Regions from separate parts of the Homo sapiens genome. Here all the other regions are linked to region 1. Evidence: fine-mapped expression QTL. A gene starts in region 1. Each other region holds a variant in brackets. All regions are shown on one strand. Distances are between the middles of the regions. Region 1 holds the start of ITGB3BP (integrin subunit beta 3 binding protein). Region 2 holds the start of LOC102724319 (a long non-coding RNA gene). Region 3 has its middle 7.0 kb from the start of PGM1.

Region 1 (8,000 bases):
AGTAGGATGCTAGATCCTATGGTAGCTGTATTTTTAGTTTTTTGAGAAGCCTCCAAACTGTTCTCCACAGTGGTTGTACTAATATACATTCCTACCAACAGTGTAAGAGGGTTCCCTTTTCTCCACATCCTTGCCAGCATTTGAAGTCCACATGAAAGAAAATTATATCTTCTGTTCAGTTTTGAGAAAAAAGGTATGTAACTTTTTCTCACAAGTGGTAGCTTAGCATATGCTTGCTGCTATCTTTAGTAACAAAGAAAATATTGTTTTAAAAAATGTACTGGTAATTAGACAAGAACAACTTTCTCAGAATAAAATTAATTATGCCAAAACATGTACTCAGTAAGCAGATGTCCCCATAGCTAAGAAATTGATACAATCTATTTCCTACTAACTTTAATCTCTAGGTTTAGAATTAGCTGGATCTAATGATTAAGTTTGATGATAGTAAAAATATCACGTAGCTGTAGATATTTAAATTTTGACACCATGATATGGATCTTTTGCCAGGGTTTACTTTAAAGTTCTGACATGCATCTATAATCCTGTATTATTTATAAATTGACAAAAAAGGAACTTAAAGCTATAGTAATGCTACCGCTGTCTCTGACCTTAAAATGGAAATGCACATAAGTGGCAGAAGGATATAGATGAAAGGTGTAGCAAGAAGCAGCAGCTCTAGTTCATGTTACTCCTTTTTAAAAAATAGTTTATCTAAAATCAATTATTACAACGTTAAGAGAGTATTCCACCCTAAAACCAAAAGTGTATATAACACTGAAGAGACAAACACTGTATAGTTATCCTCCCAGATAATTTCATAAGATTGATAGCACCTTAGTAATACATACACATTGATTCACAAACTAAATGCCATAGTAGTGGAAGGCATGTTAAACTTTTAAACTTAGCAGATTCCTTCTCTTAGTATATTTTCAAAACAGTAACAAAAAAAAACTCGGATTATTTTAGAAATAATGGCAAATTAGAAGTAATTTTAATTTATTGGCCAGGCGTGGTGGCTCACGCCTATAATGCCAGCACTTTGGGAGGCCGAGGCAGGCAGATCACCTGAGGTCAGGAGCTCGAGACCAGCCTGGCCAACATGGCAAAACCCCGTCTCTACTAAAAATACAAAAATTAGCCAGGCATGGTGGCGTGCAACTGTAATCTCAGCTACCCAGGAGGCTGAGGCAGGAGAATCGCTGGAACCCAGGAGGCAGAGGCTGCAGTGAATCAAGATCGCGCCACTGCACTCCAGCCTGGAAGACAGAGCAAGACTCCGTCTCAAAAAAAAAAAAATTTATTGGATGTCTGCCTAAACATTTAATGTATATGAATTAAACACAAATACTTAAAATTCAAAATAGAGCATTTTAGTAATTTTAAAATTATGTAAATCAAAATTAAACATGACTTTAAAAGTCAGTCATGTGCATTTGCATTTAAACTACTTTACAAATAATGTATTTTATTTAGACATCAAATAAATTTTAATCTTGTCAATTCTTGTATTCCTCAAAATACATTTCCTCAAATAGATCTTATTGGATACAAACTCAAGACACTGCTGCACAAATATGTCAGGGTTTTGGTTTAAGAAAATTCATTATAAAATTGGCAAAATAACTCAGTTTCTCTACCCATAAAGTTATTAGCCTTGATGAAACTGACATGAGTAGTCAGTGTTATCTAGTACTGTTGTTTACTACTCTCTCATGACTAAAGATGTCCAAATCATTTGATACTCCTGGAAAGAACCAAATTTGGTGGTTTTGGGGACCTTTGTAATGAGAGGAATTTTTAAATGTGATAAAGGACAGAAGCAATAAAAGACAAAACAAAAAATAAAAATAAGAAATAAAAAAACCCCAACTCAATTCTCTTTTAAAAGTTCACTTATCTCTCAGTACTTCACTTTTTCAGACATTCCACCCATTTTTACACATCCTTTACACTTTCCTCAGTATGGGTCAAATTCAGGCTAGTGACTTAAGAGGCCAAAAGCGTTTTAATTTTATTATGATAAATCTTAAAGCACCAAAATGAGAATTAAAAGTATCTTAAGCAAGTAGTAATTGATAGAAGCTTTCAATTACCCATCTAGTTTGTATAAACATTGAAAGTTTTATTTTGTAGTTCCTAGAATATGTAACTATATGATATGACATAATAGCTTACTGTAGTTCCATTGCTCAAGCTTCACTAAGAAACTGGGATGATTCAACAAGGTAATTCTAATTTCAGTCTTTCGGACCTATTTATTAACTTTCAACAAAAAGGTGAAAGATTTAAAAATTTTAAAAATTTACCTAAGTAAAGTTGATCTTTAGAAATAATGTTTTCCAAGCTGCTTTTGAAGACAGTTAAGTAGGCAGCTCTACAATTCATATAAAATATTTCCTCTTCAGTTAGTGGAAATTTCTTTGTTCGAGGACTCTCTGAAGGTGTTGATTTCTGACTGGAGAAAGTTGCATCGCTTCGTGGACTGATCGCCATTCTATTGGAAAATAATTTAAAAATGTGTTTGTCAATGTGAGTCACTAAAACACAAATGTCACCATGTCTTTCAAATACAGGGAGGAGAATCAAGATTTTATACATAGAAGAAAATTTATAACATATATGAAAAGATCAAGATATTAAAAGTTTTATATGTGGAAGTAAAAGACGAATACTATAGTTGTATATGGACGTATTATATATTAAACAAGAATAAGCCTTTGGCAGTTAATTTCTAATTTTAGATATATACATATGTATATATATAATTGTTCAAATATGTGATAATAGCCAAAAGAACAAAGATATACACAAGAGAAGAATCACTGAACAAAGGAAGAGCACACATCTATTCTCTCAAAATACGAAAGTCAGATGACAGTCTTCATCAGGTTTTTAAGAGGAGCAAATCAGTTAATACATGTGAAGCATATACAATATTGCTTGACACGTAGTAAGTGCTAAATAAACTGCAGATAATGAGAAACTCCAGAATAATGAGAATCGGGATATGAGTGGTAGTTGACACCCATCTTCCACAGCAGGATCAACAAGATCATTTCATTAACATCTCAATAATGCAGCCCCACATTTCAAATAGCTATATTTTAAAAGTCTTATTTATAGCATTATCATAGTTTTACTGTGTTCCTTTATTAATAACAATATTTGGGGTTTGTATAGCACCTCTGTACATAAGAGCTTAAAGAACTGTCATACATCTTGTCTTATCCCTATTACAGCGGTCAGGTATTTTTTTGTCCGTTTTACAGATGAGGAAATTGAGGGGTAGCAATGTCACCCAGCTAGCAGTAAGTGGCAAAAAGCCGTAAATTTCACGAACAGTTTCTTCTTTGTTAATGTGGATATAGTACTGAACAATGGTTACTATGGGGTATTAGATTCTACTGGTGGTCTAACAGCTTCCAATATTACTCTACCCAGCTTTGACTTCTAAAAATAGATCTCCAACCTAATAAATTGAATATTTCAAGTTCAATAATAAGATAACACAGGTAGGGTCCCCTTCAGGACTCATTGCATTCCTACTCAGGAGGCCTAAATCACTTGCACCTTTTCGAATTATATAGATCATTTACACTTGGGAAAGAAAGATAATAATTGCTTATCATGGATGAAGTACCCTATTTATAATACGCAGGCCGCCTGCCTGACACTTTCATATTACACCAGATTTAGAAGGACCCCACAGGGATGTGGTGTCACAGTCTGGTTACTGCAAATTGGTAATACTATAATTAAGCATCAGAGTTCTAAACACATATGTGTGCATGCATCTCCTCACAAATGTGAAAGAAAACTGTTTCAAGAAGTAAGGGAGAATGAATTTCACTTTGCAATAAGCAATTTTAAAATATAAGTATATTTTAGGATCGTCCTCAAATATTCTTTCCAAACAAGGCAACTCCCTCACATGGAAATCCCAAGGCAGAAATGTGCCAGAATTTTATTCTTTTCCTTTCTGTGACGAGAAACCAAACTAAAGCTTAAATAAACATATAATTGCACCCCCCGCAGGCTTGGAAACCTCCCTTACTTAAAACTCCGGCCCGAGACTGAGACAGGGGCCTAGAGAGTACATTGCAGCAAACGGCTCCATAAATAACCAGCCACACAATAGCAAGAAAAATAAACTGTTAACAAGCGCCTAAGGCTTCTACAGGGCCAAGTGAAAACAGAAAGCCGTCCAGTCACCGTCCCTACACAGTGAAATACCGTCACAGGTAATCTCGGGCACCATCTCTCTATTTTTGTATTCCTCTGGAAATAAAACCGCATTTACATGTACATTTTAGGTACATACATGGACCAAATGTTTATGACAGAGAAGTAGACAAAGCAGAGGAAGGAGAAGCAGCTGCACAGAGAGGGACAGAGGGAGCGAAGAGACAGAGACAGCGAGCTGTTTGCTACCTAATTCTAGCTCACAAACAAGGAAGCGCAGCCAATTCTCTTCGGCGATTCAGCGTTCCTCTCACCGCAGCTGGACAGATCTCGGCCTTTCTCTAATCACCATGGCAACTGCACCTCACCGCCACCGGAAATAAGATGCAGAGCCCTTCTCCAAACGATCCGGCTAGAAATCTAGGAAGCGCTGATCCGGAGCGCACAGAGACAGCTGTGTTGCTCCTCTATCGCGGGGGTGGTATGGCCAGAGTAGTGAGAGAAGGTGCTCTGTTACACCAGCAGGAAATAGGTGCTGTCCTGGGCCTAGAACTCCCCGCTCGCTCCTTTGCTCGCGCACACCCGGATCCTTCGTCGCGGGGAGGATGTTTCCGCCCGGCCGCGGTGGGCTTGACGCAACGTCCAGCGCGCGCTTTTCATGCCTTGGCGTTTCCTTTGGCGGATTTTCTGTTTTCGGAAGTTGCTGGGTTCGTTTTATTCAGCGGCAGTGGTGCTTTCCCGAATCTCAGAATGCCGTAGGTATCTCCTCCCCAGGTATTGCTGTTTTGGGGGCCCTCTGCAAGAAGAGAAGATATTATGTGGCCCAGTAGCCTTTCTCGTTTTCCTATTTTTTCGGAGTATGAACTTGTCTCCTCTGTCCACAGGCAATTCCCTTCGCTTGGTACCCTCAACTCTACGTCTCCTCCAGCGGTACTCATACGATAGTCCTCCTTCGCTTTCTGTTTCTACGATGCTTTTGACAGATTTCGTAAACTGTGGGCTGTATTTAGGTGATGTCTAACTTGAAATAACATAAATAAGGTTGACACACAGGATGGGACAGAGTAGATGAAAACACGCCTTCGTAGTTTGTCAGTCCCTTGCCTTCATTAATGTGGCGCGTTCGTGTAAACCCGTGGGAGAACTCATGGACTGAGTGGGTCTAGATACCTGGATTCCAGATAAGACTCTTTCACTGTTGGGCAAGTCACTTATCGACCCTGAGCTTCGTTTTTTTTTACTTACACAAATAAGTTTGTACTGCATGATCTCTAAATTCCCATCTATGACCAATAATCTGATTATTGAGAATGACCATAGTGGGAATAGGCATTGTGCTAGATAAGATTCATCTGTTTTTCATATCCTTCATCCATCCTATATTGAGATGCATAAAATAGTTGCTACCCTATAGAAACTTAAAAAAGCCATTAAAGGTTGGGGGAGTGGGGTGGATATCAAACACCTGTAATTTCTCCTTGGCCGTCCTTGTCCTCAGGTTGATTTAGGTACCCCCTCTAGTGTAACCTGTTCCTTAGTTTATTTCAGGATTAAGTAAAATGCAAAGTAACACAGCTGGGGAAATTTTTGTATCAAATAGGAATTGACATGAAAGGGGAAAGCTGTACAGAAATGATAACCTATATTTATTGAATCTTGAATTACAATGTGGGTGCTGTATTAATCAATTTATCTACGTTTTTTCATTGAATCCTAAAATACTTTAGGGGATGGGGGCTGCTATTATCTTTACAGATAAAGAAACCCATCACCTAATAGGGTGTTCAACACAGCTGCCAATAAATGCATGTTTTACTGATGCCCTTAAAAGTTATGGATTATTGAGGAGGTTTTCCTTTCCCCAGAATTAAGCAAAGAGACTTGTTTCCCTACTCTTGCATTAGAAAAATCATCCAGTTCTCAAATAAACAAAGCTGCAAAGATAATGTCACACAATCACACACACAAAATCCCTAAGAATACAGTGAAAACAGAGGTGTATTTGCCAAACAAGTGGTAATACCTCCTGAACTGTGTGTATCTGTGTATAGGAGTGGGGAACCAAAAAACTATGAAAAGTGGAACTTTTTTTTTCTTTTTTTGAGGCAGAGTCTGGCTCTGTTGCCCAGGCTGGAGTGCAGTGCTGTGATCACAGCTCACTGCAGCCTCTACCTCCTGGGCTCCCACATGCCACCATGCCTAATTTTTTTATTTTGTAAAGACAGTGTCTCCCTGTGTTGCCCAGCCTGGTCTTGAAGTCCTGGGCTTAAGTGATCCTTCCACCTCAGCCTCCCAATGTGCTGGGACTATAGGAGTTAGCCACTGTGTCAGGCCTAAAAGTGGACCTTTTTGACAACTGTCTTCCTAACATATGCACACAAGATGTTATATTAGGCTTTTAGATAAGTATATTCTGGTAATAAATACACAACCTTAAAGTTGAGGTTAACATCTCACATATATAGCTAATATATATGTGAAACTAGCAATTACTTTGCTAATTTTCTAAGTTTTAGCAAAGTGATTTAAGACTAAATCAACAGTTAAGTAATGCATAAAACGTAATGGCATGTTAGTAGAGAATCTCCATCATTGTTAGTAAATTAAGTGTTTTTTTTTTTTTTAATGTGGTTACTGGTGAGGTCATAAATGAGTGGTGCAAATAGTTATCTTGGCAAGTTACATATGCAGGTGGATTCATTTTTAAGTGATGTTGAAATGGTGACTATTTGGTATGTATTTGGAAGACTAAATGTGTAATATAACTTACGGGAGGGTGTGATCTATCTTTTTTCTAATTTCTTAGAACCTTGAGCAGAAAAAACTTCAATACAACAATGAGTAGTTGTGAAAATATATATGGTCCAAATGAATCTAAAATAAATAAGAAACAGCAAATGTTCAGTGACAATAGAGCGGATGGATGAATCTTAACATAATGAGTGAAATAACCAATTTGTATGAGACTACATTTGTTATCCTTATAAAACTTAAGAACACGCAAAAATAAGCTACTTATGGTTATATATGTATATGATAAGATTATTGTTAAAAGGCAGAGAAATGATAAATACAGAGAAATGATAAATACAGTTTAATAGATGCCTTTTGGGGGAAGCAAATAGATGCATGTATACCCAGTCATATTGGTAATGATCTAGTTCTTAAATTATGTGGTGAGTTTATGCGTGCTTATTTTCTAATGTTTTATAACTTGCACAGCTTACATTTTTTCATTAGTATCCATTATTCATTAGTATTACATTTATTCATTTAGTATGTACTACTTAAAATGTTTTTTAAAAGGATTTAGAGATTACCTATCTTAAGTCCTCCCTAAGTGTAGCTTTCTCTGCCTTCTCTTTGATCCTTTGGAGGAAACAGATGAATTAGATAAATGCTGCTGTTGGTTTCATTAGGCTAATCATCTTCCCTTCCAATCTTGCTCCTCTTTCTGTGTACATTCTGAAATTAGTGGCACAGTCATTTCTCTATCTAGGTTGAAACCTTCACTTTTTAAAGATTTGAAGTGGAAAAATCATGGACTTTGGAGTAAGACAAACCAGGATTTGAATCTTGAGTCTGTTAACCAGCTGTGTGCTCCTTAGATTGTTACTCAGTGTCCTCATTGATAAAATAGTTGCTCAATAAGTATTTATTAATTGAATGATAAAGTTGCTACTTTGGAAAGATTTCATTCTATGTAGACAGATACATGTCTTTTTAGTAGCTCTTGCTGTAAGTAATCAAATCCCATTCTAGACCTTTTTTCTTCTTCTACCTTTTCTTTATAAAGCTTCCTTTAAAAAGTA
Region 2 (8,000 bases), 37 kb after region 1:
TCCTCTACCAAGCTATATCCAGTATGTTGGCAATGTATGAGCCATCAGACCTTTCCTATATCCCCCAGATCCATCCTATGCTGTCTGTTCCACCTCTTATTTCAGATTTCTCATGCCTTTTTCTGTGACAGACTACTGCAGCCAACTTTGAATTTTTCCTCTTCTCTGAATTTCGTAGCATGCATACTAATTTAAAACCTCTTTGTTGTTCTTCTAACTTTTGGTAGATACTCCTTAAGGCCAGAGCAATTTGTTATATTTCTTTGTACACATTAGTACACATTTAGCAGTGCTGGTGGGTGATCAGTAAGCTTATGGAAAGCAAGTTTTAAGGGAATTCAGGAAAGGGAACAATTAATAGTATGATAATGGATGTTTGAAGGAAGGGGATCATGAATGAGGACCTAAACTAAGGAAAGTCTAGGTCTTGGGGAAGATAAAAAAGAGGATGTTCCAAGCTGAGATCACAAAATGATCTGAGGCCCAAATGCACATAGCCTAGTGACTGAAGCTGTAGGTAACAGTGAATAATAATTGGATGTATGAACCAGTGAACAAATTAGTATATTCTGAGTAGAGCAAGATGGCCAAATTTACTGGACTGTTCCTTGTAAGTCATTCGTTCCTCACACATTTTTTAGTTCTCTAGGATATAAAGATGAAAAGATAATATTTATTTTCAGGAGCAAATTCTAATGGAACAGACAGAACTTATTAAAATATGTTACCTGAAATAAGAGGTATGCCCAACACCTATGGAAACACAAAGGAGGAAGCTGCTAAGAGGAAATTTGTAAGACAGGCCAAATCCTCAAAGGCCTTAAATGCCTGACTCAACTGTTTGGACATTATTTTGGTGATTATTGAAGCAAGATGCTACATCAGACCACTTTGTGAAGCTGTAGGACAGCAGTGATCCTTCCTAAGGTTTCTGTGTGAGGCTTAGTAATAGGCACCTCTGAGAGTTTTCCTGCCCTGGCCCCATAATTATACTTCAAGTTCAGCTGAAAGCAAAAGTCAGGGTATGGTTGGGAGAGTTGGCCATCTCTAACCTGTTTGGAAATACCATCTCAGAAGGTAGTAACCCTTTAATGCTAAAATTTAGTAAATATCAAATTGAGATGTTCTAGTTATTATAGAGACCTGAAATATCTACCTTGAAAGAATAGTGTTTACTTTGAGAGTGATAGTTGAGTATATTTGTAATCTGAAAAGCAAGAGCAAGGAAACAAGTTTGAATTTTGCTGATTTTTTAATGGTATATAATTTCAAAGATCTATAACTAAACATAGCTATTTCTGTCCTTAATTATTATTTATTTCCAGTCATTTGATCCTTCAAAAATCACAAGGAAGAAAAGTGTTATAACTTATTCTCCAACAACTGGAACTTGTCAAATGAGTCTATTTGCTTCTCCCACAAGTTCTGAAGAGCAAAAGCACAGAAATGGACTATCAAATGGTTAGTTGAACATTCTTTTCTACTTATTGTAAGGTTTTTCTAGTTATTGGCCAAATCAAAATTGTGATTTAATTATGTATGGATCTTGCTACAGCTGATTTTTCTCTTCTCTCAAATAATTTAATACCTTAATATAGGTATTACTTTGGACATAAATGTAAACTTTTGGCACTTATTTTAAAATGCAACTGCAGGCTTTGTTCCCTTACTATCCCATCCATTAAATAGAAATTATGGCCTGACTTGCCTTCAGCTACTATCAATTATAATGGTTACAGATATGCCCCTTAACAAGCTATCCATCATGTGCATAAATTAAAGGGAGCATAATTCAGGTGCTGCTGCACTACAACTTAAGAGTGATACTTCTAAATGTTATTTTTATCCATGGTTTCCATTGAGTTTTACCCACATTTAGTATATCTTTATATAGCTTATCTTTATTTATTATATTTCATTCCCTTCTTTTTCTTGACTATTTCAAATGTATTTACAAAAGGTTTGTAGAATTTTTCCATAGAGAAAAATCTAATTTTAATATGAAATTCTTTATTTTAAAATATTATTAGTTTAATTTTAATTTTGACCATACATATTTGTTGTCCTCTGGTAGTTCATTGCTAAAATATTGATTTAAAAACACAAATCTCGATTCCGTGGGGTTTTTTTTTTTTGAGAAAGGTTATGAATCAGTGACATGTAGTTTTATAATTAAAATTTTAAATAGGCTCAAATTTAATAGTGTATCCTTTAGATATACTGTGATTAGCCTAATTCACATTTTATTGTTTAACATTTAATGAGTGCTAAGCATATACTAGAAGCTACCCAGAAAAAAGAAGTCTCATTTTACCTGATTTGTTATAATGTAACACATAATGAGATCTTAAAGTTTTGAATGTCTTTAATTTTACTTTAATCAAATGCTTTTTATCCTAAAGCTGTTACTATTAGGTTCTCTTTCCCTAAAATGTATGAAAATGTATACACTTTAAGTTTCATAGTTCTATTTTTATATGCATGATATATCTTTTTAATTAAAAATAAATGCCTTAGAGATTGTACATCCCTATACTGAAATGTGAATAGATTTTAAGTTGATATGTACTCAATTTCCATATTGAAATTAAGTATGGACTTAAGGGGACATTCCTTTTGCCCATAAAAAGATTGGTCACATGATTTCAGTTGGCATTTAAGTAGATAATTATCACAGATTATAGTCCTAAGTAAGCTCTTTTTTAAAAAGTCAGATAGCAAGGGTTTCAGAGGTGCTGGCAATGTTCTGTTTTTTGACCTACATAGTGGTTACACTGATTCACTCTAGTTATTCATCAGACTGCACATACATGTTTCATATGTGCTGTAATATATATATCTCACATATAGAAGTCTCGAAACAGAATTTTGTCCAGAATTCTGTATGAGATTATGTCATTTGTAATCATTACATTGCTTATCCTAATATGTCATCTTGTACATGTTTTAAAAATAAAAAAGCTTGATTTTTAGGAAGTAACTTAAGTTCAAAATAAATGAGAAAATATGACGTATGAAGTCATTTAAATTCTAAATGAGGTCATAATCTCTTAACAACTCCCACTTTTAAAATATTATACAAAACATAATATAAAATTTAAATTACATTTTCAAGGACATTTTTGGTGTTACTCACTTCCCATCACACTTATGATAAGATCCAAAAC[C/A]CTTATCATGACATGGAAGGCCATATATCCATCTAACACCCAAACACCTCATCTGCCTCATTTTCTACCCCTTTTTTACACTACTTTAGCCACTCTTACCTTCTTGCTATTTGTCAGTCATGCTGAGCCCCTTCTTGCCACAAGGTCTTGCAGTTCTCTCCACCTGGAATAATCTTCCTCCAGATATTTATATGTACTTTCTATGTACATTTGAACCATGTACTATGTGAACAGAAGACTTAATATTATATTTAAATCCATTTGTAGTTATAAAAGGATGAAAAATTTAGTTCTATGTCTTCCTTCTACTTAGATTCTACATTGGCCAAACATGGGATTTGTTTCAACTCTTTAGTTTATACATTTAACAGATGCGTTCATGCAGCACATAATAACATTTCAGTCAGTGACAGACTGTATACACATCAGGGGTCCCCCAAGATTATAATGGAGCTGAAAAATTCCTATTGCTTAGTTGCCCGGTAGCCGTCATAACATTGTAGCACAACACGTTACTCACATTTTTGTGGTGATGCCAGTGTAAACAAACCTAGCTCGCTGCTAGTCATATAAAAGTGTAGCATGTACAATTATATGTAGTACATGATATAGTCGTGTACTACATAATGATGTTTTGTTCAACAAATGACCACATACAATGATGGTCCTGTAAGATTATAATACCGTATTTTACTGTGCTTTTTTATGTTTAGATATGTTTAGATAAACAAATACTTACAATATGTTACAATTGCCTACAGTGTTCAGTACAGTAATATGCTGTACAGGTTTGTAGACTAGGAGCAATAGGCTATACACTAGGTGTGTGGTAGGTTATACAATGGAGGTTTGTATAAGCACACCTACGATGTTTGCACAACAATGAGATCACCTCATGATGCATTTCTCAGAATGTATGTCCATAGTTAAGTGACACATAACTCTATATGTATGTGTGTATGTTATGTATCATTTATGTATTTTTTAATTTGTATGTACATTATTTTGCTGCCCTCCTCCAACCCATAGCAAGTTTCTCCAGACTATTACAGTTGACCCTTGAACAACATGGGTTTGAACTGCACAGGTCCACTTACATGAAGATTATTTTCAAATAAACATACTGGAAAATTTTTTGGAGTTTTGTGACAATTTGTAAAACCCTGCAGACAAACTTTATAGACTGTAAATATAAAAAAAAAAGTTGGCTATGCCATGGATGCATAAAATATATGTAGCTACTAGTCTATCATTTACCATAAAACATACACAAATTTATTATAAAAAATAAAATTTATCAAAACTAATGCATACAAACACTTAGACCCTACACAGTCCCATTTGCAGCTGAGAGAAATGTAAATGAATATAAAGATGCAGTACTAAATCATAACTGCATAAAATTAACTCTAGTACATACTGTGCTACTGTAATAATTTCATAGCTACCTCCTGTTGCTATTGTAGTGAGCTCAAGTGTTGCAAGTATCTGCTTGACCATGTGATGCTGATAATCTCTGCACAAGTAATGTGTCTCTCAAGTAAATTGTGTATTGCAGTAAAAAATGATCTCATGGTTCTCGTATGTTTTTCATCATGTTTAGGGCTATGCTGGAAACCTTGACTAACACCATGAAACCCACATAAAGTGCCACTAGTGATGCTGGAAGTGCTCCCAATGAGCAGAGAAAAATCATGACATTACAAGAAAAAGATGAATTACTTGATATGTACTGTAGATTAAGGTCTGCAGCTGTAGTTCCTCACCATTTCTGACAGTTCATCTTGTAAACAGATGACAAGCTTATGGTATTAATACTTTACAATACTGTAAATATTTTATCTTCCTTATGATTTTCTTAATAACTTTTTTCTCTAGCTTTATTGTAAGAATACACAATATAATACATATAACACACGAAATATGTATTAATTGACTTTGTGGCATCTGGTCAACAGTAGGCTATTGGTAGTTAAGTTTTTGGGGAGTCAAGAGTTATACTTGGATTTTTGACTACATGGGGGATTTGGCACTCCTAACCCTCGAGTTCCTCAAGGGTCAGTTGTATGCATTTTAGAAAAGAAGAAAGAGAAAATTTTTCCCCTTTCCTCCCATGAACACTTCGGACTTGTTATTTAATAATGAAAGTAGAAGAATAAACAACAAATTTGCATAGTCGAAGAGAGTACTTGTTAACTGGACAATAGATCTGTAAAAATCACTCAGACTATAACAATATAATAGTACAGAGAGATAAAAGGAGAATGTGATAAAACAATAAAGTGAAATGATAGGCAGAATAAGACTCTCCAACATCTGCCAAATTGGAGTTCTACAAGGAGGAAATACAGAGAATGGTCCATAGGCAGTATTCTAAGATATAAGGACTATCAGTTTTTCATAATTAAGGAAAGATAAGAATTTGCAAATTAGAGTAGCATGCTAAGTCTGGGCAGGGTAAAGTAAAACAGATCCACATCTAGTTATATCATGATAAAACTGTATGTAGAACATCAAAGACAAAATTTTAAGGGCAACCAGAGAAAAGATAGTACCTACAAGAGAGTAACAGACTGATAAACTTATCTATATCAGTAGACTCCAGCAGAAAATGCAATAATAGTATCAATTAAGAATCACAGTTGAGTTTTTATCCAGGAAGTGAGGATGAAATACAATTTTTCAGACAAAGTCTCAGAGAGTTTGCCACTCACAGATTCTCTTAAAATAACTACAAAATAAGTTACTTCTCTAAGAGGTAAAGTGAACCTCAGATAAAGGAGTGGAATTGCAAAAAGCAATGATGAAAAAGTGAATTAGCAAACATGTTAATCTAATTACAAGTTTTGCTGACTATAAAGCAAAAGTCAAACAATTGGAGGGCGGGTGAAAAAAAAATTGGAGGGCAGGTTAAAAACAAACAATTGGAGGGCGGGTGAAAAAAAAAAGTCAAACAATTGGAGGGCGGGTGAAAAACTATCATGGAAGGTGAGGAGGCAACAGATAAGAGTTACGATGTTTTAGACAATATTTTAAGGTCCTCGTATTTTCAGGCAGACAAGATATCTATCAGTTGACTTCTTCATTGTATTTTTTGTTTTCTTGCCTGTAAAATGGGGAAGATAGTAATTCCTACCTCAGAATTGTGAGGATTAAATGAATTAATACACAGAAAGCACTTAGAATGGTACTTGACGTATATTAATAGTATATGTTCCATACATGTTCTAGCCATTTTCATTAATAGCATTATTAATTAGACTTTAAGAAAAGACATAAGACAATTAAATCTGAAGGAATAGAAAAAGAAAACAAAGCAAATACTAGCTTTTTAAAAAAAGCTAGTAGTTGATACAAAAATAGAAAGGCTGAAATAGACTTTATGCCTAAAAGGATTTATTGAAAATAATGAGGCTCTTTACATAAGAGATAGAGAAAGATTCACCACTACAAAAATAAAAGGATCCTGAGCCATATGTGCATCTAAAAAACTCAAAACATAATGAAATATGACAGGATAACAAGGGAGAAACTGATAAATCCACAATCATTGTAGGAGATTTTAAACTACCTCTTTCAGAAACTGATGAAGCGGTTAAAAAGGAAGGACATAGACAAGTTGTACACAATTAGCAAGTTTATCTAATGAGCTGTGGTCAAAAAGATATAATACCCATATAATAAAGCACATGTAGAATGTTCACAAAAATGTAACCAGCTTGGAGTTACAGAGGAAGTCTCACTGTACTAAAAATTACAGTCATACAGCTCACACTCTAAAATTTCATACAATTAGGAATCAATAATGAAAAGGCAGCCCTCCAAAAATTTTAACCTGTATGTTTGGAAACCAAGAAACTTCTAAATAATTCATTGATCAGAAAAATTATAATGGAAAGTATAAAATATTTAAAATTGAATGATAATGAAAACATGTCAGCACTTAGAGGAAAAATTTATACCTACATTATACTAAAGCAGTTCTTGGTGGAAGCTTTATACAGTCGTCCCTTCCTATCTGGGGGATTGGTTACTGGATCCCACTCAGTTTCCAAGATCCACAGACTCTCAAGTCCCTTGTAGAAAATAGTATAGTATTTGCATATAACCAATACACCCTCCTATATACTTTAAATTATCTCAGGATTACTTATATACCTAATACAATGTAAGTGCTATGGAAATAGTTGTTATACTGTATTGTTTAGGGAATTATGACAAGGAAAAGTCTGTATATGTTCAGTACAGATGCAACCATCCTTTTTTTAAACAAAGTATTTTTGATCCATGGTTGGTTGAATCCACAGATGTGGAATCCACTAATACAGAGGGCCAACTGTACTTACAAATGCATATACAGTCCTGTGTCACTTAACAATGGGGATACCTTCTGAGGAAAGCATTGTTTGGTGATTTTGTCATTGTATGAACATCATAGATTGTACTTACACAAACCTAGATGTCATAGCCTACTACACATTTATGCTATATGGTATAGCCTTTTGTTCCTAGGCTGCAAACCTATACAGTGGACTACTGAATACCATAGGCAATCAAAACATAATGGTATTGGTGTATTTAAACATATCTGAGTAGAAAAGGTACAGTAGAAATATGGTGTTTATAATCTTATGAGACCACTGTCATATATGTGGTTTGTCACTGACCAAAATGTTGTTATACTGCTCATGACTGTATTTAAAAAGGAAGAATGATTGAAAACTATTGAGTCAAGCATTCAACTCAGAATGACTGAAAAGGAACAACATAATGAACCCCCCAAAGTAGAAAGGAAATAATGATATGAAGATAAATTACAAATTGAAAACAGGG
Region 3 (8,364 bases), 62 kb before region 1:
AGTCAAGAGCCAAGCTGGCTTCTTATCTGGAGGCTCTGGGAAGAATTTCTTTCAAGTGTTAAAGATAAATAAAAATAGAGGCTCCAGTTTAGATATTTTAAGTCCAACCACCCATAGCCAGGTAGCCAAAACTTAAGTCATCCTTATTTCCCTGAAACACTTGCTCTAGACATAAACAAAACACAAAATGTCCTTGACAGTGTGAGTCAATGAAATTAAACCAATCAGCTATAGACAAATCAGCTTAACAGCTCTACTCGCCTTAAAAAGAATGTAACGAAGGTCAAAATACTTCTTCCTCAATGTTTATAAGCTGTACTGTAACTGCTGTGAGCTGGGCTTCTTGCCACTTTTGGTTAGATGTCTTCCAGTTTGTAAACTGTTCTTTGTATGCATGCTAAACTTTTAAAAATTTTTAAAGTTTGATCTGATTTTAACACAGCGCATTCAGATTGCTGGCAGGATCTATTTCCTTGCAGTTGTAGGATTGAGGTCCCCATTTCTTAGATTAGACCTACCTGGATAATCTCCCTTTGTAACGTGTTCATAGGAGTAATGTATCATCGTATTCACAGGTTCTACCCACGTTCAAAAATTGACTTGCAGAGATTTCCAAGTTGTAGTATTTATGAAAAGCAAGAGAAGGAGTCTTATTCCCCTGTGGGTAGCACTGAAATCGGGAAAGAAGCCATTGGAAATATACCAAGATATGCAACAATGATTACCACTGAGTTGCAAGATAGGGCAATGTTTATTTTCTTTATATTTTATCTGGATTTTCCAGGTTTTCTATAGGGAATTTGTATTATTTTTAAAATGATAAGTACATATTATGTATTTTCCTTTTCTTTGAAATACCTTTTAAGTGGTAATCCTTACTTTTTTTTTTTTTTTTTTTTTTTTGGAGACAGTCTCACTCCATCACCCAGGCTGGAGTGCAGTGGCACGATCTTGGCTCACTTCCACCTCCACCTCTGGGGTTCAAGCAATGCTCGTGTCTCAGCCTCCCAAGTAGTTGGAATTACAGGCACATGCCACTATGCCCAGCTAATTTTTGTATTTTTAGTAGAGATGGCGTTTCGCCATGTTGGCCATGCTGGTCTGGAACTCCTGACCTCAAGTGATCTGCCTTCCTCGGCCTCCCAAAGTGCTGCAATTACAGACATGAGCCGCCACACCCGGCCCTCATTATTTCATTAATGAATTATTCTTTACCATTTAGATGTATTCGTTCGTGTATTGATTCATTAACTCTATAAATATGTTTTGAACTTGTACTAAATGACAGCTCTTTGAAAGGTGTTTGATGAATAAGACAAAATAGTCTCGGCCGGGCGCGGTGGCTCACGCCTATAATCCTAGCACTTTGGGAGGCCAAGGTGGGCGGATCATGAGGTCAGGAGATCGAGATCATCCTGGCTAACAGGGTAAAAACCCATCTCTACTAAAAATACAAAAAATTAGCCAGGTGTCGTGGCAGGTGCCTGTAGTCCCAGCTACTCAGGAGGCTGAGGCAGGAGGATGGCGTGAACCCGGGAGGCGGATCTTGCAGTGAGCCAGGATCGCACCACTGCACTCCAGCCTGGGCAACAGAGCGAGACTCCGTCTCAAAAAAAAAAAAAAAGCAAAATAGTCTCTGGTCTCACAGATCTTGCAATATGTTGCAGGAGACAGATACTGAATAATAAATCATAATTGTGATAAGTGCAACAAAGAAGTATAGGTGCTGTTAGATTGTAAATAGAAGGATCTATCATTGGAGAGAGTCATGGACAATATCCTGGAGAAAGTGCTATGTAAGCTGAGGGATAAAACAATGAGTAATAGTACCTGGCCAGGTGAAAAGAGAGGAGGAGCATTTCATTCCAGAAAGAACGTTAAGGGAAGTTTAAAGTAAGAAGGAATCTAGTGTCATCAATAACTTGAAAAAAGACAGTTAGTGTAACTGGAGTATAAAAACCTCGGGGTGGAATGGTAGGTCTGATCATATTGGGCCTTGTAGGGGATGTCAGGTGTTGAGATCTTTATCATAACAGCAGTGAACAAACAAAAGCATTTTGTTTTCATTGTGGCAAGACATACGTAATGAAATTTACCATTTTAATGATTTTTAAGTGTACATTCAGTGGCACTAAGTACATTCACATTGTTGTGCAACCATTGTACCATCCATCTCCAGAACATTTTCATCTTCGCAAACTGAAACTCTGTACCCATGAAACAGTAACTCCCCATTCCCTCCTCCCTCCTACCCCTGAAAACCACTATTCTGTCTCTATGAATTTTACTATTCTCAAGTACAATCATATTTATCCTTCATTTGCATTCCAATTGCAATGATTTAAAGAAATGTATTTACTATAGGATAGCAATCTTTGATGACTGCAACAAATAATCAATGGTATGTATGTGAAATTTATAATAAAAAAGATGTATGGAGTTTATAATGAAAATACTGGATGGTGAAGTGGGTGATATAGTGGCATTAACATTTAACAGTTATTAGTTACATGGCTTATATAGAAACCAATTATCAAAGTGAGAAATATTGAAAAGTAATTCATTAACAACATATAGACAAAGCCTTAGCAGGCACCTATTTGGCATACAATAAAAGCATGTATCATGTTATTGTTAAAAACAAAACAGCTCTATATCTATGTATCCTCATCTTCCTGTCTGGTGGTGTCAAGTAATGGTGGAATAATCTATATTGAGGAATATTGAGGATGTCTACAGTTTAGGACTAGAATGTCCTAAACTAGTCTCTAACTAGAGACTAGTCTCTCAGTTAACAGAGCTCTAATAGAGTAAGTCAGTTGTAAATAATCTTCTATAAGAATGTACAGTTATTTGTAACTGGAAAATAATTGACAATTCCATATCAACCCAAATTAATGCTGAACAATATTGCAAATGTCATTTTAGTTCATTTATGCAGTCTAAATCATAGGTTCTTCTTGACTGCAGATTCAGTTTATTAAATCCTGATCTATTTGTAATTTGCTGAAATGACTAGTTCCTACATATGGAAGCAATATGAAACCGATGTCCGTTTGTATCCATAAGTTATTCAGGTGTTTAAAACTTTTACTTGAATAAAAGTTAATAGATATCTGCATGCTGTGATTCTGAAGTTTGTTCCTGTGCCAAAATAATAATAGTTTCTGAATTCATGTTTCAGTGTCAAGTGGTTATTCATGAGGCTATGTGTGAAAAGGATTGATATATGTGATAAATTGGACTTTTTCCTTAGAATTCATTTTTGGAATCTTCTATAAAGGATATCAGTCTGAATTAATTTATATGAATATTTGATATGCAAATATTAATATTTCAAATGGCAAAAGATAAGATTTTTAAAAATACAGATTGTGAAGGACATTTTTCAAGAGATAATGAATGTCTTCATTTTTCCATTTCATCAGTATTCTTGATTCCTTGTTAGATGCTGTGGTAGGTTAAATAATGGCTCCTAAAAGTTATACATTTCCTAATCCCCAGAATCTGTGAGTGTTACCTTATATGGCATAAATGAGTTTGCAGATATAATTAAGAATCTTGAGATGGAAAGATTATCCTGGATTGTCCAAGAGGGCTCTAAATGCAATTACAAGTGTCCTTAGAAGACAGAGAAAGGGGGACATTTGACTGCAAAAGAGGAGAAGGCCAAGGAGGCAGA[T/C]TGGAGTGATGTAGTCACGAGCCAAGGAATGCTGGCAGACACCAAAAGCTGGATGAGACAAAAAATGCAGTCTCCTTTAAAACTTTCCAAGGAAGCACCACCCTGTCGTCACCTTGATTTTGGCCCAGTTATACTGATTTTGAAATTCTGGCCTCCAGAACTGTGAGAAAATAAATTTCTGTTGTTTTAAGCTACCAAGTTTGTGGTAATTTGTTACAGCACTTATAGAAAACTAATACAGATTGATATGGTTTGGCTGTGTCCCCACCCTAATCTCATCTTGTAGTTCCCATAATCCCCACATGTCATGGGAGGGACCTGGTGGGAGGTAATTGAATCATAGGGGCAGTTAACCCCATGCTGCTGTTCTTGTGATAGTGAGTGAGTTCTCACAAGACCTGATGGTTTTATAAGGGGCTTCCCCCTTCTGCTGGGCACTCATTCTCTCTCTTGCCGCCCTGTGAAAAGGTGCCTTCTGCCATGATTTTAAGTTTCCTGAGGCCTCCCCAGCCATGCAGAACTGTGAGTCAATTAAACCTATTTTCTTTATGATTTACCCAGTTTCAGGTATTTCTTCATAGCAGCATGAGAACAGACTAATACACAGATGCTTTAATTTTATGGAGGGCTATGAGCCACAAAACTTATGGCTTGATCCTCTGGAGGCCTAAAGCATGATTTCAGGTGACAGCAAGAGACAGAATAAGGAAAAAAAAAAAAAAAGGCTATCCTAAGGCTCTACAATCAATAAACACCAGAGAAATATATATCAAGTGTAGCACGAGTGAAGGAAGGAATCAAGAAAATCACGGAGGTAAATATCTCCAAATTATTATCTTGCTTAAATTATCTGAAAAACTAAGGTCAAAAATGTTTTTTTCCTTGAATTGTCTAGGAAACATAGTTCTTTGTTTATTCACTATGTAGAATTGCTGCAGTGTACTGGGAGTGTTCTGTATGCCACCTTGAGATTCTGAACGCAGTCTATCAGAACTAGTTTAGAATTGGCTGGTATTAGCAATTTTTCCTCATGACAGAACTGTTTTTCTTTTTTCCCTTGATATCACTTCCCTGGATATGATTCTTAGGTTCTGTTATTTTTCTTAATTTTGAAACCTTCTTTGAAATACTTTTATTCATACCTTCACTTACTCTCCCTTTCACCCATCTGTTCCTTTTCAAACCACCTATCAAATTTTTACTAAGCACACAGTACAGGATAGTCAGTTAGGTCCCAGATTAGCCAACCAAAATAAGATCCCTGCACTCCAGAACATTAAAATAGGGAAATCTAGACATGTACACAAATTAATAAAATATACGAAGTATAAGCTACAAAAAGGTACTGATTTTTAAAGCTAATATTAAAAAGCAAGATCTTAATAATCTAAGCTTCTACCTTAAGAAACTAGGAAAAGAACAAGTAATCCCAGGGTAAGCAGAAAGAAGGAATGAATAAAGGTAAGAGCAGAAATCAACAAAATTAAAAACAAAAAAAGAGAAAATCAATAAAACTAAATAAAATCAATAAAACTTTTCTTTGAAAAGATCAATAAAAATGACAAACCTCCAGCAAGACCAACAGAGAAGACACATTTTATTAATATCAGAAATGAAAAAGGGATATCACTACAGACTGCATTGACAATTTTAAAAAATTCTATGCACATAAATTTGACAACTTAGATAAAATGGACCAAATGCTCAAAAACTACAAACTACCAAAACTCAACCAAGAATAGGTAAACTGAATATCCTGTAGCTGTTAAAGAAATTGAATTTGTATTAAAAAAAAAAAAACCTCTTCCAAAATAAATCTTCATGCCTAGATGTTTCTAATGAGAAATTCAAGTGAACATTTAAAGAAATAACACCAATTTTACAGTCTTTTCCAGAAAACGAGAAAGCATTCCCAACTCATCTTATGAGGCCAGAATTACTCTGATACCCAAACAAGACAAAGACATTTCCAATTAAGAAAACTACAGACCAACATCCATTTTATGCAGTCACAAAAATGCTCAACAATGTACAGTTGACCCTGAAATAATATGGGGGTTATGAATGCCAACCACCCCCACAAGTGGAAAATCTATCCATAACTTTTGACTCCCCCCAAACTTAACTACTAATAGCCTATGTTGACCAGAAGCCTTATGGAACATAAACAATAAAGTTAGCTAGAGAAAGGAAAATGTTATTTGTTACCATAAGAGAACATATATTTACTGTTCATTAAGTGAAAGTGGATCATCATAAGTCTTCATCCTCATTATCTCCATGTTGAATAGAAGGTGGAAGAAGAGAAGTTGGTCTTGCTGTCTCAAGAGTAGCAGAAGCAGAAGAGGCAGGCACACTTGGTGTAACTTGGAAATACACTGTAATTTTTTTCTTTTTTCAAGACAAGATCTTGCTCCATTGCCCAGGCTGGATTGTGGTGGTGCAATCATAGCTCACTGCAGCCTCGAACTCCTGGGCTCAAGTGATCCTCTGGCCTCAGCCTCATGAGTAGCCGGGACTACAGGTGTGTGCCACCATGCCCAGCTAATTTTATTTTTTGTAGAGACAATGTCTTACCATGTTGCCCAGGCTGATCTTGAACTCCTGTCCTCAAGCAATCCTTCCACCTCAGCCTCCCAAAGTGCTGAGATATAGGCATGAGCCACCACACCCGGCTACACTGTAATTTTTGTCTGACTTTTTTGCTTTCTCATTTCTCTAAAAATGTTTCTATACAGTACAATCCATCTTCCACTGTTTGCTTTAGTTTCCATGTTGCAAAAGAAGTCAAAAGTGATCTTGAATAATCAGAACCCTTATGCCAGACTGTCTCATGTCATTTTGTTTCCTGGCACTGCTTCTTCTATGTCTTCTTCCACATCATTTGGCACTGGTTCAGAATCACTCAACTCTCTCCTGTTGTCTTAACTCCTCTGGTGTGGTGTCTTGAATTTCTCCAAGATCCATATCTTAAAACCTTTCACCTCCCACTTTTTTTTTTTTTTTTTTTTTGGCCATATCCACGTCTTTCATTTCTTTGATTAGGTCTGTCATAAATTCTGTGAAATGATGCACAACATCTGGACACAGTTTTCTCCATCAGGAATTTATTGTTTCAGGTTTGATGACTTTCATGGCTTTTTCTGTAGCATAATCAATGGTATTATCTTTATAGACTTTTATGATGTCCTTTTGTTATTGTTGTTTTAATCTTTCAGTCTTTTATTTTTATATAGTTTTCTTTTCTAAAAGGCCATCTCGGCTTCATATCATGGTTTCTCTCTATTGGGGGTTCTCATCCATAGCGTTGACATTCCTTTCCACAGAGTACCTCCCACGTGAAATGAGACTTAAAGGCCCTCATGACCTCCAATCTATAGGTTGAATTAGGAACCTTGTTTTGGGGAGCAAGTAGACCTCATTGACACCTTCAGTGTTGAATCATGGGGTTCCGTGTGGCCAGGGACATTGTGCCAGATCAAAAAAACTGTAAAAGGTGGTCGCTTACTGGCAAAGTACTTCCTGACTTCAGCGACAAAGCATTGATGGAACCAATCTAGAAAAAGGGTTCTCATTGTCCAGACCTTCTTGTTGTACAACCAAAAGACTGGCAGCTGGTGTTTATCTTTTCCCTTCAAGGCTGCGGAGGGTAGGGCATTGAAGGGGGAGAGTTTAGCACCTTTATAGATAAGGGCAATCTTGATCATAAATGTGACTGCATTCATAAAATGGTAGAGTTTGTTATCCCTTCCTGCCTTAAATCCTGGTGCTTGCTTCCCTTACTTACTAATAAATGTCTTCTGTGGCATGTTTTTCCAGAATAGGGCACATTAGTCTGCATTAAAAACCTGTTCAGGCAGATATCATTCCTCCTCAATGATTTTCTTAATAGTATCTGAGAACTCATCTGATCCTTCTTTGCTGGCAGAAGCTGCTTCTCCTGTTATCTTGACACTTTTTAAGTCAAACCTCTTTCAAAAATTATCAAACCATCCTTTGCTGGCACTAAACTTTTGAGCTTAATATCCTTAAACTTCCTTTTGCATGGCTGGGTGCGGTGGCTCACGCCTGTAATCCCAGCACTTTGGGAGGCCGAGGTGGGTGGATTACCTGAGGTCAGAAGTTCGAGACCAGCCTGGCCAACATGGTGAAACCCCATCTTTACCAAGAATACAAAAATTAGCTGGGCATGGTGGCATACACCCGTAGTCCCAGCTACTCGAGAGGCTGAGGCAGAATTGCTTAAACCCAGAAGGCAGAGGTTGCAGTGAGCTGAGATGGCACCACTGCATTCCAGCCTGGGAGGCAGAGCGAGACTGCATCTCAAAAAAACCCAAAAAACTTCCTTTTGCTTTGTCATATAATGACTTCACTTTTTTAAAAATCCTGTTAATTTACAGGTATGACTTCCTTATAGCAATCCTGTACCCACATAAAAGCTGCATTTCCAATATGAGATGAAAAGGTATTTTGCAAAAAGGGCAAGGTTCTCATGCCTGCTGGCATAGCTGCAGCAACGGTGTTATGAATTTCCTTTTCTGTTTTTACAATGGTCCTTATGTTTTCTTAATTTATCTTGAAATGGCAGGCAACCACATCTGCAAACCTCAATCCACAATGCATATCAAGCAATTCAACTTTTTCTTGTAATGTCATGACTTTGCTATGCTTCTTAGGAGCAC

Evidence for each region. PIP is the estimated chance that this variant, and not a neighbour inherited with it, causes the effect.
Region 2: its variant is fine-mapped to the expression of ITGB3BP in whole blood (INTERVAL, PIP above 0.99).
Region 3: its variant is fine-mapped to the expression of ITGB3BP in whole blood (INTERVAL, PIP above 0.99).

The regions. Positions count from the first base shown.
Region 1 is chr1:63,520,072-63,528,071 of GRCh38, reverse strand. ITGB3BP (integrin subunit beta 3 binding protein) reads left to right here and starts at 4,847. Exons shown (of 9, transcript NM_014288.5): 1 at 4,847-4,943. The coding sequence starts at 4,939. EFCAB7 (EF-hand calcium binding domain 7) reads right to left here and starts at 4,547. Exons shown (of 14, transcript NM_032437.4): 1 at 4,438-4,547; 2 at 2,313-2,500. The coding sequence starts at 2,499. RefSeq lists enhancers at 4,584-4,663, 4,825-5,448.
Region 2 is chr1:63,483,544-63,491,543 of GRCh38, reverse strand. ITGB3BP (integrin subunit beta 3 binding protein) reads left to right here. Exons shown (of 9, transcript NM_014288.5): 3 at 1,326-1,461. LOC102724319 (a long non-coding RNA gene) reads right to left here and starts at 3,591. Exons shown (of 3, transcript XR_426701.4): 1 at 3,267-3,591. The variant C/A (reference allele first, on the strand shown) is at 3,168.
Region 3 is chr1:63,582,269-63,590,632 of GRCh38, reverse strand. It overlaps a transcript of EFCAB7 not described here. Among named protein-coding and RNA genes, the nearest start is that of PGM1, 7.0 kb to the left of the region's middle. The variant T/C (reference allele first, on the strand shown) is at 3,683.